Regions from separate parts of the Homo sapiens genome. Here region 2 is linked to region 1. The links come from fine-mapping of genetic effects on gene expression. A gene starts in region 1. The other region holds a variant in brackets. All regions are shown on one strand. Distances are from middle to middle.

Evidence for each region.
Region 2: its variant is fine-mapped to the expression of LINC02881 in prefrontal cortex (GTEx, PIP 0.97).

What each region holds. Positions count from the first base shown.
Region 1 is chr10:44,289,481-44,294,852 of GRCh38, reverse strand. LINC02881 (long intergenic non-protein coding RNA 2881) reads right to left here and starts at 2,103. Exons shown (of 3, transcript NR_164139.1): 1 at 1,920-2,103; 2 at 1,364-1,552; 3 at 204-940. It overlaps LOC124902544 (a long non-coding RNA gene), which reads left to right. Exons shown (of 3, transcript XR_007062369.1): 3 at 1-939.
Region 2 is chr10:44,910,040-44,915,411 of GRCh38, reverse strand. TMEM72 (transmembrane protein 72) reads right to left here and starts at 4,075. Exons shown (of 5, transcript NM_001123376.3): 1 at 3,830-4,075. The coding sequence starts at 3,899. The region is part of intron 2 of TMEM72-AS1 (TMEM72 antisense RNA 1); the gene reads left to right. The variant C/T (reference allele first, on the strand shown) is at 2,523.

The DNA of each region.
Region 1 (5,372 bases):
AGCCTTTCTGAAAATATCAGAACAAACCAAAGTACTTTTTTTCTCTCACTCAACAACAATCAACACAGAAGACTTCTGTGACCAAATGTGTGGGTTTTCTCCCCACCACAAGCAAGAAGGCAGTTCTACATCGGACAATTCCAACATCGACACCTTCTACCTGGAGGTGGCCTCACACCCCACAAGCCCAAGCCTCATGTCCCAAGCCTGCCCTCCACTTCCAATGCCAATGGCAAGGTGGTCTTACCTGTGCTTCTGACCCACTGGCGTTCCCACGAATCAATGTTCCCAGGACGCCTCCTAACACTTGAATAATTCGCTAGAGCAGCTCACAGAGCTCAGGGAAAGGCCTACTTACATTTACTATAAAGGATGTTACAGAGGAGAGAGACACAGAGATGCCTGGGGCAAGACATATGAGGAGGGCGAGAAGCTTCCATGCCCTCCTGGGGCTGTCGAACTAAAACGAAGAAGCTGAAAGTTTTGCTCCAAATGCCATTGTTTATCCATTTTTGACCACCTGATCTGTTCCATTAGCTTCAAAAGATGCCTTTTCATTTGTTTCGTTTTGCCTTCGATGGCCTTCCGCCTGCCGCAAGCAACCCTCTAGAATATGGGCCTGTGCTTGGCTTTTCTACACAAACATGAGCAGCCTTCAATTACTGGGGGACATTCATTTCCTCCTTCCAACTAGAGAGCGAGGAGTGTCCCGGGGAGAGTGGGTCCTTGAGCTCCTCTGGGCCTTGCTTGGGACTTGGTCCAGGAGGTTATGGGAAGAAACTGGTTTAGAAGCTGACCTCATGGGTTCGCTATTCTTATGTAACACTTAGGAAGAGCAGAGACCCACGCGATTCAGTCCCAGAGCAATGTTGCGGTCAAGAGAACACAGTCCAGCTACCAACAGTTATTTCAAAATAATTCAAGCTCTTTGTTTATATTTCTGAAAGAAAGAAAGAAAAAAAAAGGGTGGCCCAGCTGGAAACTCGGCTTTAAGTCCCCTTTCAGGGGGCCCTCAGGTGGGCACCTGCTTGGAAACCTCTCCACCCCTCCAAACACCCTTTTCCTCTCTGAGTGTTCATTTGTTGATCCAGATTCTGAATAAATGAAGCCGTACAGAATCCACCTGGCAAAAATGGAAACTGCCTGGAGGCCAGGGCTGAGGGAAGGCCTGGAGCAGAGCCGGTGCGCGACCTCGCAGTGAGCAGGGAGGGCAGGCTGGGGACGTTCACCACCCAGAACGCCTCTGCTCCCCGCAACCCTGAGACTCCAGGCTCCCCTGTTCCTCCCTCCGGGAGACCCTGCCCGTCCTCCCCGCGGGGCTCCTTCGCAGTTCGGGGGAAGGGACGGGTTGCGTCCTCGGGACCTTTCTCTGCAGCCACAGCAGCGCATCCCAGCACCTCCTCCAGGAGCCCCGCCACCTCCTGCCACCCGGACTTTCCCCACAGCGCAGCGTCCCCTCGTCCTCTCAGGGCTGGAACAGCGGTACCCGCAGACAGTGCAAAAGGGAAGTCCCTGTTGCCTTCCCATGCAAACTGTAGGGCGCTTACAGCTGCTGGGAGAGGAAAGGAAAGAAGAAATACAGTGAGTGTGATATGGGTACAAAGAAACCAACACGGAGCTTCCGTGGGCCTAGAAAGGAGCCCCCAGGAGAAGTACACTGGGCCTGCGTCATCGCCTGCCTTCAGCGGGCTCCATCCTTCCCCAGGCCCCCCTCCCCACCCACCTCCCACCCGCGGTCCTCCCGAGGCCCCCCTCCCCGCCCCCCCTTCTCGCTTCCCCATCCCCCTCCCACCCGCGGCCCTCCCGAAGCCCCCCTCCCCACCTCCCCACCTCCATTCTTCGCCTCCCCAACCCCGCTCCGAGTCTCCCCGCCTCCCTATCCCGCCTCCCACCCGCGGCCCTCCCGACGCCCCCTTCACCTCCCCACTCCCGAGGCCCTCCTGAGGCCCCTGGGCTCCCGCTCCTCCGAGTTGCCTGCGGCCGAGTCCTGGCGCGGCCTGGGACTGCCTGTTGGGGGGAGGGGGTGGGGGGGGGTCGTTCCCAAAGAAGGGGAAGGAGGCCTTTCGTGAGCATCTGAGGAGTACATCCTCATTTTGTCTTCTCACTCTGTCCACCCAGAGCCTGTGACCCGGATCCAACCCGCGGCGCACAGACCCCGGCTCTGGGCACCCCTGGTGAGCGCCTTCTGCGCCAGAGCTCCGTACAGCACCAGCCCGCGCTCTCCCCCAGCTTCTGTTCATTTGCTGCAGTCCTGACGGGTCAGTTGCCTGAGCATCCATGCTGCCATCCATACAAACCCAGGCACGCAGAGATGTACATCCTTTACCCAGGGTGACACCATGTGGAGCTGAATCCAAGTCCGGGAGTCTGATGACCGTGTCTGGGCTCTGACCGCGCAGCCGTCTCACAGTGAAACAAATTGCGGACTGGCCTTGTCCTGAGTGGCCTTAGGAAGCTGCAGTGGCCTGCAGTCTCCTGGCCAGTCTGTAGAATTTGGCAAAGATGAGGCACCTTATAGCCTTACATGTTCTTATTTTTCTTTCCTTTTCTCTTCTTTATTTTCTTTTTTAAGGATTTGAATTAGTATATGTAAAGTGCTTAACGCAGGAGCTGGCAGAGAAAGTGGATACTCAGTAAATAACAGCAATTGTTAATTGTAAAAAGCATGCCACTTATCTGGTAAAATCCCCCATTCTAAGCACCCTGTTAAGTAGTTGGTAATTCCTCACTTGAAAGAAATTAAAAAGAATTTTTGTCAGTTTTTTAAAATATTGTTTTATTGTGATAAAATATTCATAACATAAATTTCACTCTTTTAATACTTTTTAAGTGTACAATGCAGATTAATAAGAGAAATGCATACAAATTTATTAACGTGTACACGGGAAAAATAAGGTGATTACCCAATATCCCATGAGGTCCAGATACTTATACAGCGTTTTTTCAGAGAGGAGGGTGGAAGGCGGAATGTAGGTGATTCTGTTGAGGGGCAATAAATTATTATTAAGGAGAATGAATGGGTCAAGAAACAGAGAGTTATTCGTAAATGGTTCTCTTTGAAAATTTAATAAGCTGGAGAAATGGATTATTTTTTTGAAAGCGTCTGTTCAGGTGTGGTCACGTGTTGGTTTTCTTTTCTGCAATAGATAATGAGATAAGAGGGAGGAGAAGGAAAAGTAATTGTTCTCTTTGGTGGGTCTGCAGGGTCTTCATGTAGATAAGGGAGAGGACTCTTCCAGCTTCTGTTGATCTTGAGGGACTTTAATTGAAAATACTCATACCAGGGAGCCATATTTTGGGGCCAAGTTCCCTGCGCTCCTTCAATCCTCCTGTTTGGAACTTCCCTAGAATTTCACATTATCAACAGCTGAATCAGTGATTATGGAGAGATTTGGGTTAGAGGAAAAGAAGGCAAAGAAGGGGAAAAAACAAATTGGGATAAGCAGAAAAGAAAAATAAATAAATATGTTGTCCCATATCTTCTTGAATCAGTCTCTTAGTCCTAAGAGTAGAAGCATTTGGTCAAACAGCTGTGTCCATTCTAGGAGGTGGCACTACAGAGGGGCTGGGCTTCTACAGCTGATGCAGGCAAGCTGGTCTTTAATAAGAGGCATTTCTATGGAAACAAAGAAAAACAAAGGTTTTTCTTAATGTCTGGAATAGTCCATAATAAACTAGTTTTTCTAGAGTCTCAGAAGTATCTTCAGATTGTAGTGGTAATCTTACAGATTTTCCTGGATTATAGTTTGAATTACGTGTTCATGTGAACTTCCTGAGTAGCCCATACATCAGCAGGCACAAAGGCTGTGTACATGTGAGTTGCTGTGCTGACTCCTCCTGAAGTTTATATCAAGTTGTCTAACTTTAGTTTGCAGGGCTTCAAGAAAAGCAGTTTTAAATTCTAGTGATTCCAAGTGAGAAAAATGAGAGAAAAGTTCAAAAGCATTAGTTTGAAGACTTGCAGCCAAGAAAGAATTCAGGATTTAGTCCAAATTGTAGGAAAATAATAAAAACTCAAAAACAATGGGCAAGACTAGAATCTGATAACAGGCATACTGTACTTGTCTTCTGAAATGCAATTTTTCTCTCCCGTTTCCCCGTTTTTACCAAGGATAAATCATAATTATGCTTGACAACATATATCATGATATATCAAAATAATAACATATTCAGAAAAATATGACTAAAAAATTAAACTCCATTATTTATTTGAGATTTGACAATGCTTCCCATATGATTTTAACATACCAAATAAGCTAAATATATCTTTCTTAGATTTCTAGAGGTTACTTTTGGAAAAGATTTAATTTTAGAAACTGAAATTTGACTTTGGGTAGTATATCAAATATTAAAGGTTTAAAACACTTGATCAAATTAGGATCACAGTTCACTGTAAATAATAGTCATTCATTTAACCAAAGCAATAATTCAAAAATTTCAAACAACCTTTACTCTTTGAGAGAGAAGACTCAGTTATCTAAATAATCAAAAGACCTAATAAAGATCTTTTTTTGCAGTTTACTCAAAAGTTGAACAAAAGCCTTTTACTATCCTTATTAATACTACATTAAAATCTTGTTCAAAAGAGGAAAGCATATTCTACATTTGTGTCAGTATATTATTAATGCTAAAGCTAAGTTTAATAAAGACTTATAAATAAATCCATCCAGTCTGAATCAGTTTTGACCATGCAAGATAAGCTTTCCATAAACCTCTTATAATCTTTTATAATTTTCTGTTAAAATTATAGGGAAAACCCTATTGTTCAAACATAGGAGCCAGGACTCTGGCCTTGCATTAGTGTGCTTTTCATATTAATGCTCAATCTTTAGAAAAACTTGAAATAATTCTCGTATAATTTTAGCCAACTTGCTCACACACAAAATTCTTTTCGCAAGATTCATCTTTCACAAACCTACAACTTACTTAAACCTCCAGTTTTGTCTTATACTTTCTCTTTTTGCATTGGGATTCTATAAAAATGTGATTTTCTCTCTTCTTTATTGTTTTGACCACAAAGTCCTCAGTCATGTAAAAGAAAAAAATCACTTTCTCTTTTCAACTTTCTTTGCATCTTACTTCCTTTATATGCTCTATAATAGAGGTTTTTCCTATAGCAAGTAGTTTTAATTATACATATTAGCTATAACATTGACTCTTAGTGCTGCAGGTAGTTAGACAGGCATGAGTGGGGCAGGAAAGGGCTCCCCACCCACTAGGAACATTAGGTGCTGGTTTGGCAATTATCACATTGTCTCTCTAAAAGTGATAAATAAAATAAATAAAACAAAAGTGATAAAAAAGCACCAGAGAGAGGCCATTTCCTGATGGTCAAGTCTGTTTCACTAAAATGTTATTTAACTGAATGCAGG
Region 2 (5,372 bases), 620 kb before region 1:
CTTCCTGTACAGTGGGTATGAGGATGAACATGATGATGCTCCCAATGACAGGAGGATGAAATGCGATACTGCATTTAAAATACACAGTGCAAAGCTTGGGCTTTGAGTATTATTTGAGTAAATACTCAAATAATCATGTTCATTCTCAGCAACCTCTGCTCTGGGCAGAGGCTGGAAGAGTGAAATTCAGCCCTGGAGATGGGGCAGTGGGGCCTCAAGCTGGAGCCTCTTTGCTCTGAGGGAAATTGGGAGGCCTTGCTCAAGTGCCCAGAGACATTTTCTGAGCAAGCCTCTTATGGGGAAGCCCATGCACATCTGTGTGTGAGGACACAGCCTGAGGGGAGGGCTTTCACTACAAGGCGGGGCTCAGGGACATGTCTCCCCTTCCCTCCATGCCCAGCCTGGACGGCCTGAGAGGTGCCTCCTCTGTCCCACAAAGGGGGCTCTTCCCATGCTCTTCCTGGCCACCTCAGCAGGGGCTGGGGAGTGGCAAAGGAGTTATTCAAGATTCCCCTGAGGTTAAAGGGTAAGAGGATGGCTGAAGTTCAAAGGGAAGCCAACCCTGCTTTCCTAGCCTGCAACTGGGACCAATGCTGTGGGACAGGTCCTTTCTCATCTCACAGGGGAGGAGTGCCCTGGACCGCTGTGCTCCAGGCTCAGTTAAATCCATTTCCCAGGACCCCTTTCCTGCCATTTGGTCTGTGCTGAGAACCTGTCACAGGGCTGAGCCTCCTCTGGGGCCTGAGTCTCACACTCAGGACATCTTTACCCTGTCTCTAGTGGACACGGGGAGAACCTGCTTTGAGGGATGGACAGGCAGGAGCTCCGGCATCCGCACAGGGGAATGTGGAGTGCTCACAGCCTGTGTGCCATTTCCCAGCTGTGTCTGCTTCCATGGGCGGCAATGGATGCCGCGTCTCAGCAACTGAGGCACTTAGACATCACACGGGCGCATGCATGCACATGGACCCATGGGCGCCTGCCCCCCAACCCCACATCCTGAGCCAGGGAGGTGAAGCAAATGAACCCGGTGTAAACAATGCGGGAGTGGTCTGTTATGTCCTGGAAACCACATGACTGCTCCAGAGGGAGGGAATTTTCTAATTTTAGAAACACTTCCACCCAGGTGCAACTACCTGAGGCCTGTTTATCCCAATTTGGTGGTGGCAATGATCCGTCTGTGCTCTACAACCCCTCATGATATGGGGCTGGACACTGAGGTGGGGCAAGAATGGTCTGCGGGACTTCGAGGAATCCTAAGGAGGCTTCATCCAAAGGCTGTGGCTTCATCCACAGTCATAGGGCCTTGACATGCTGGCAGAGGCACCCACCAGGTGCCGTCAGTGCTTTTGACAGCCCTGATCCTGTCTGCAGGGGGTCCAGGGAAGAGGCTGCTAATGAGAGGCTGTAGCCTCTTAGCAGCTGCCTGGTCCCTGCAGGTGACACTCTGAGTGCCCTTGGGTCACATGTCTTCCTAGCTTTTAAGAAATCCACACTCCCCACCTCCCTAGGGTTTCTGCAAAGTGAGGCCCTCTATTTCCGGTCTTATTTCCTCTCTAGCAGCAGTGCCCTTGTAAATGAAGCCTGGATTTCTCAACAGAAGATTTCAACAAAAGAGAGGCTTAGGAGAATAAGGAATTTGCAAATCCTATGTACTGGAAATAGGCCAGGAGTTCAGTGATGCTGGAAGAAACTCGAGATTTGCCCAAGAACACCAAACCCCTCTCTCTAGCCTCCCACTCCCTCCCAGCACTCTAGAAAGCCCGAGCAAGATCATTTGAAAGCCTGGCCATTAGAAGGGAGCTCATGGCTATTTTTAGTCTGAATCTCCTATCAAAACCAAGAGGGAGGCCCATTCTCAGCATTAACAGCAGTCCCTGTGCGGAGATAAAGGCTGTGGTTAAGACGAGCCCTATGTGCGCGCGCACGGGTTTGTGTGTGTGTGTGTGTGTGTGTGTGCGTGCACATGGGAGTGTCAGGGGCTGCAGACTCTTCCGGTGACTGAGATAAATCAGACTGTTAAACTGTCTCTAGCTAATCCATTAGAAGGATAGGTACATACATCTTAGAACAGCCTCTCGACGGGAGGTGGGCCTCAGCTCTGGGTGGAGTGTGGCTGGGGGAACTGTGGGATTCTTGGCATTTTACAGATTTGGAAACCAAAGCCTAGAGGGAGCAGGGTGGACTCAGATCAACAGACATGGAAACCTATTTAGGGTGGCCTTCCTCTCCCCAGGATGGCTTTTTTGCTTGTTGGGGGTCTTGGCCATCATTCTCTTATGTGTAGACGACAACGTGGTTCTGAAAGTGGCTGGATCTGGCTCCTCCCTCAGTGCCTCCACTCAGAGCCTCAGCAGAGCAATTCTGAACCTCTTCCTGCTGCCTACTCTGGAAGACAGGGAAGGTTTTGGCCAGAGCCCTGGCCTTTGTGAAAGTTGAAGGACCAGGGCTCCGGGCTGGCTGTCCCTCTGACCATGACCTTGGGCAAGGTCACCACCTGCATTTGAGCTCAGGTGCCCCAT[C/T]CTGTAGCAGGAGGGGTGGGGTTAAACCATCCAGCAGCCCTTCATGATCTAACTCATGGCCTAGATGCTGGAAGAGCCCACTGGCCAGCTCACGGCTGAACCCAGCCCAGTGCTCCTGAAATGACCCAGCTTCCCATTGAGCTCTGGAGTGTGTCATGGGGGCTTCTGCTGAGAGGTTTTCATCCTCAGTTCCACTTAGCCATGCTCAGTTCCTGCATCCTTAATCTGTCCAAACACCTGGCCAGCAGGTCCCCATCATACAGATCAGAAAGTGCAGCCTCAGAGGGGTCAGGGGCTCCCCAAGGTCATATATCACGCAAGTGACTAGGCTGGGGCAGGAACAAGCACTATGTGATTTTGACCTAGGAGAACTTTCCCATTTGGTAAGACCCGTGGGTAAGCTTTTGCCCAGTGGTGGGGAAGGGCTTTGATAGGGGGTGTGTCTCTCTTTGTCCCCAAGGGACAATGTGGCTCAGAGTTAAGGGCTCAGAATTCTGCCTGTTCATTTCCCCAAAACAGATCCTGGCTCTGTAGGGGGAATGGGGCTAAGGGTCAGGCCTGCCCTGGGGAAGCGAGCAGGCAGGGCTCAGGATGGTGGCTCTGGGCTCTGCTCTAACAGTCTGCCCTCCTGTCCAGTTGAGCAGCCCTGTGATTCTGCTGGGTGAAGGAAGGAGCCCAGCATCTCTGGGAAGCATCTCTGCTGCTAAGACCACAGTGCATTCCTGCAGTCAGACCTCAGACAGGGGTCTGGGTTCCTACAGGGTGTTCTGTTAACAGGGTCCAGCATGGGCCCGAGGGAAGCCTGTGATCTCCACGTCCAGCCAGGCTCAGCCTGTCCCTCCAGGGCAGAGCTGCTCATGACTGGGAGTTCTCTCTCCATGAGGTAGGGCTATGGTTTGAGTAAAGCAGGATGAGCTCAGTTGACCTTTTGTAGATACACAGCGAAGCCCAGCCCTTTCTATCTTCACCTTCTGTCTCCACCTCCATCTCATGACAACTCTCTGCGTAGGTGGGGTGGCCCCTGGAATCATTTTGCAGATGAGGATCTTGAGGCTTCCCAAGGTCACAGGGAGGGTGACTTGCCAAGCAAAGATCCAGCACCCAGCCCTCTGGTCCCCAGCCCTAGGCTCACCCCACTGCACTTGCTGCTGCTCTACAGAGCAGTGTTTCTAGGGGTCTTGGGAAAAAAATTGAAGCACAGAAGTGGCCAGATGTGCCTGCTGTCTCCTGGCCACCTCCCACCCCTCAGGCAGCCCTATCTGTGGTGCCAGTGTGCAAGGATCAGCAGCCAGGAGGCAGGGTCTTACCTGCAGCAGTGGTGATGCCCAGGAGCCGGCAGGTGTATTCCAGCCCAGTCCAGAACACCTGGAGCTGCATGGTGCCAGGGGTGAGGACAAAGTCCTGGCAGGGCAGGCAGCAAAGTCTTCGGCCCTGAGATGCTCCCGAACACCCTTGTGTAGGTAGGAGGCTGCTGGCTGTGGCTGCACACCGGGGCCCTGCCTTCCCAAACCAGTCCTGGCCACCGCAGCCTGGCCGAGGTGTGAATAGGGCTCACCTTCTGTGCTCTCAGCCCGTGCCCTTGCCAGGCACTCAGCTTAATCATTACCTTGGAAGAATGCTCCTGCTGCTCACACAACCCCAGCCTGGGCTGGAGCCGCTCAGCCCCAGCGCAGCCCAGCCGCCTGAGATCGGCGATTAGGGCTGGGCTGGAGGCAGTCTGGAGCTGGCAATTAACCGTTTCTGGCTGGGAGGAGGGAGCCAAGGAGTGGGCCAGGCCCTTCCTCACCAAGCCATGCCTAGAAAGTCACACCTGGATTTCACACTTGCTGGGGGCCTGTAGTGTCTGGCTCTGGAGGGGACAGTGCTCTTGCAGGTCTGTGCTTATGTGCATATGGGAGAGAGGAGTGTGTCTTTAAATCACCAGTAGAAACAACTTTTGAAATGAGTTCCAAGCTTTATTCTTCTGCGTATAGGTGGATTAGAAAGCTTTTCAAATCTGTCCCGGATTTGGACTCTGACTAGACATACTTAGCTCAGGCCCCGCCACGCAGAGGCCTTCCTTCCTCATTAACATGCATCCCAACATGGGACGTGGGAAATCATTTTGATTCTTTGTTTTGCGAGGGGAGTTGCTATGTCAATAATTAACCGGGTGACCTTGGGGAAACCCAAAGGCATCTGTGAGCCTTGGTAACTTTTGCAGAAAATAAATGTGAAGTTTTGGCTGAATTGGTGTTTTTGATGTACTTGGAGTGTCCCTGTAGCTGTTTCAAGGAGCCCAGCCTTTACACTTGGACAGTGGTGGGCTTTCCCTCATTCTTAATTTACTAACGGATGTGCTAGATTGAATGGTATTAAGATTTATCTCTCAGGTGTTTTTCTGAAATCTTTTACCCCTTTGCTCATATAAGATAGAAAACAAAACAACCAAATAAGGAAAAAAACTCCAAGCAAACCCAATACACATGCTCCTCAACTTATGATGGGGTTATGTCCCAAAAAACCCATCAGACATTGAAAATATTTTAAGTTAAAAATGCACTTAATCCAACCAACCTACTGAACATCAGAGCTTAGCCTGGCCTACTTAAATGTGCTCAGAACACTTAGTTTATGGTTGGGCAAAATCATCTAACACAAGGTTTATGTTATAAAGTGTGGAGTAGCTCATGTAAGAATATATTGTAGGGCATGTTGCTAGCCCAGGAAAACATCAAAATCCAAAATTTAAAGTACAATTTCTACTGAATGTACATCATTTTCACACCATCCTAAGTTGAACCATGGAAAGCCAAGGTCTGCCAATAATAACGGAAAACTCAAGAACAATTAGTTTGGCCCTTCCCTCCC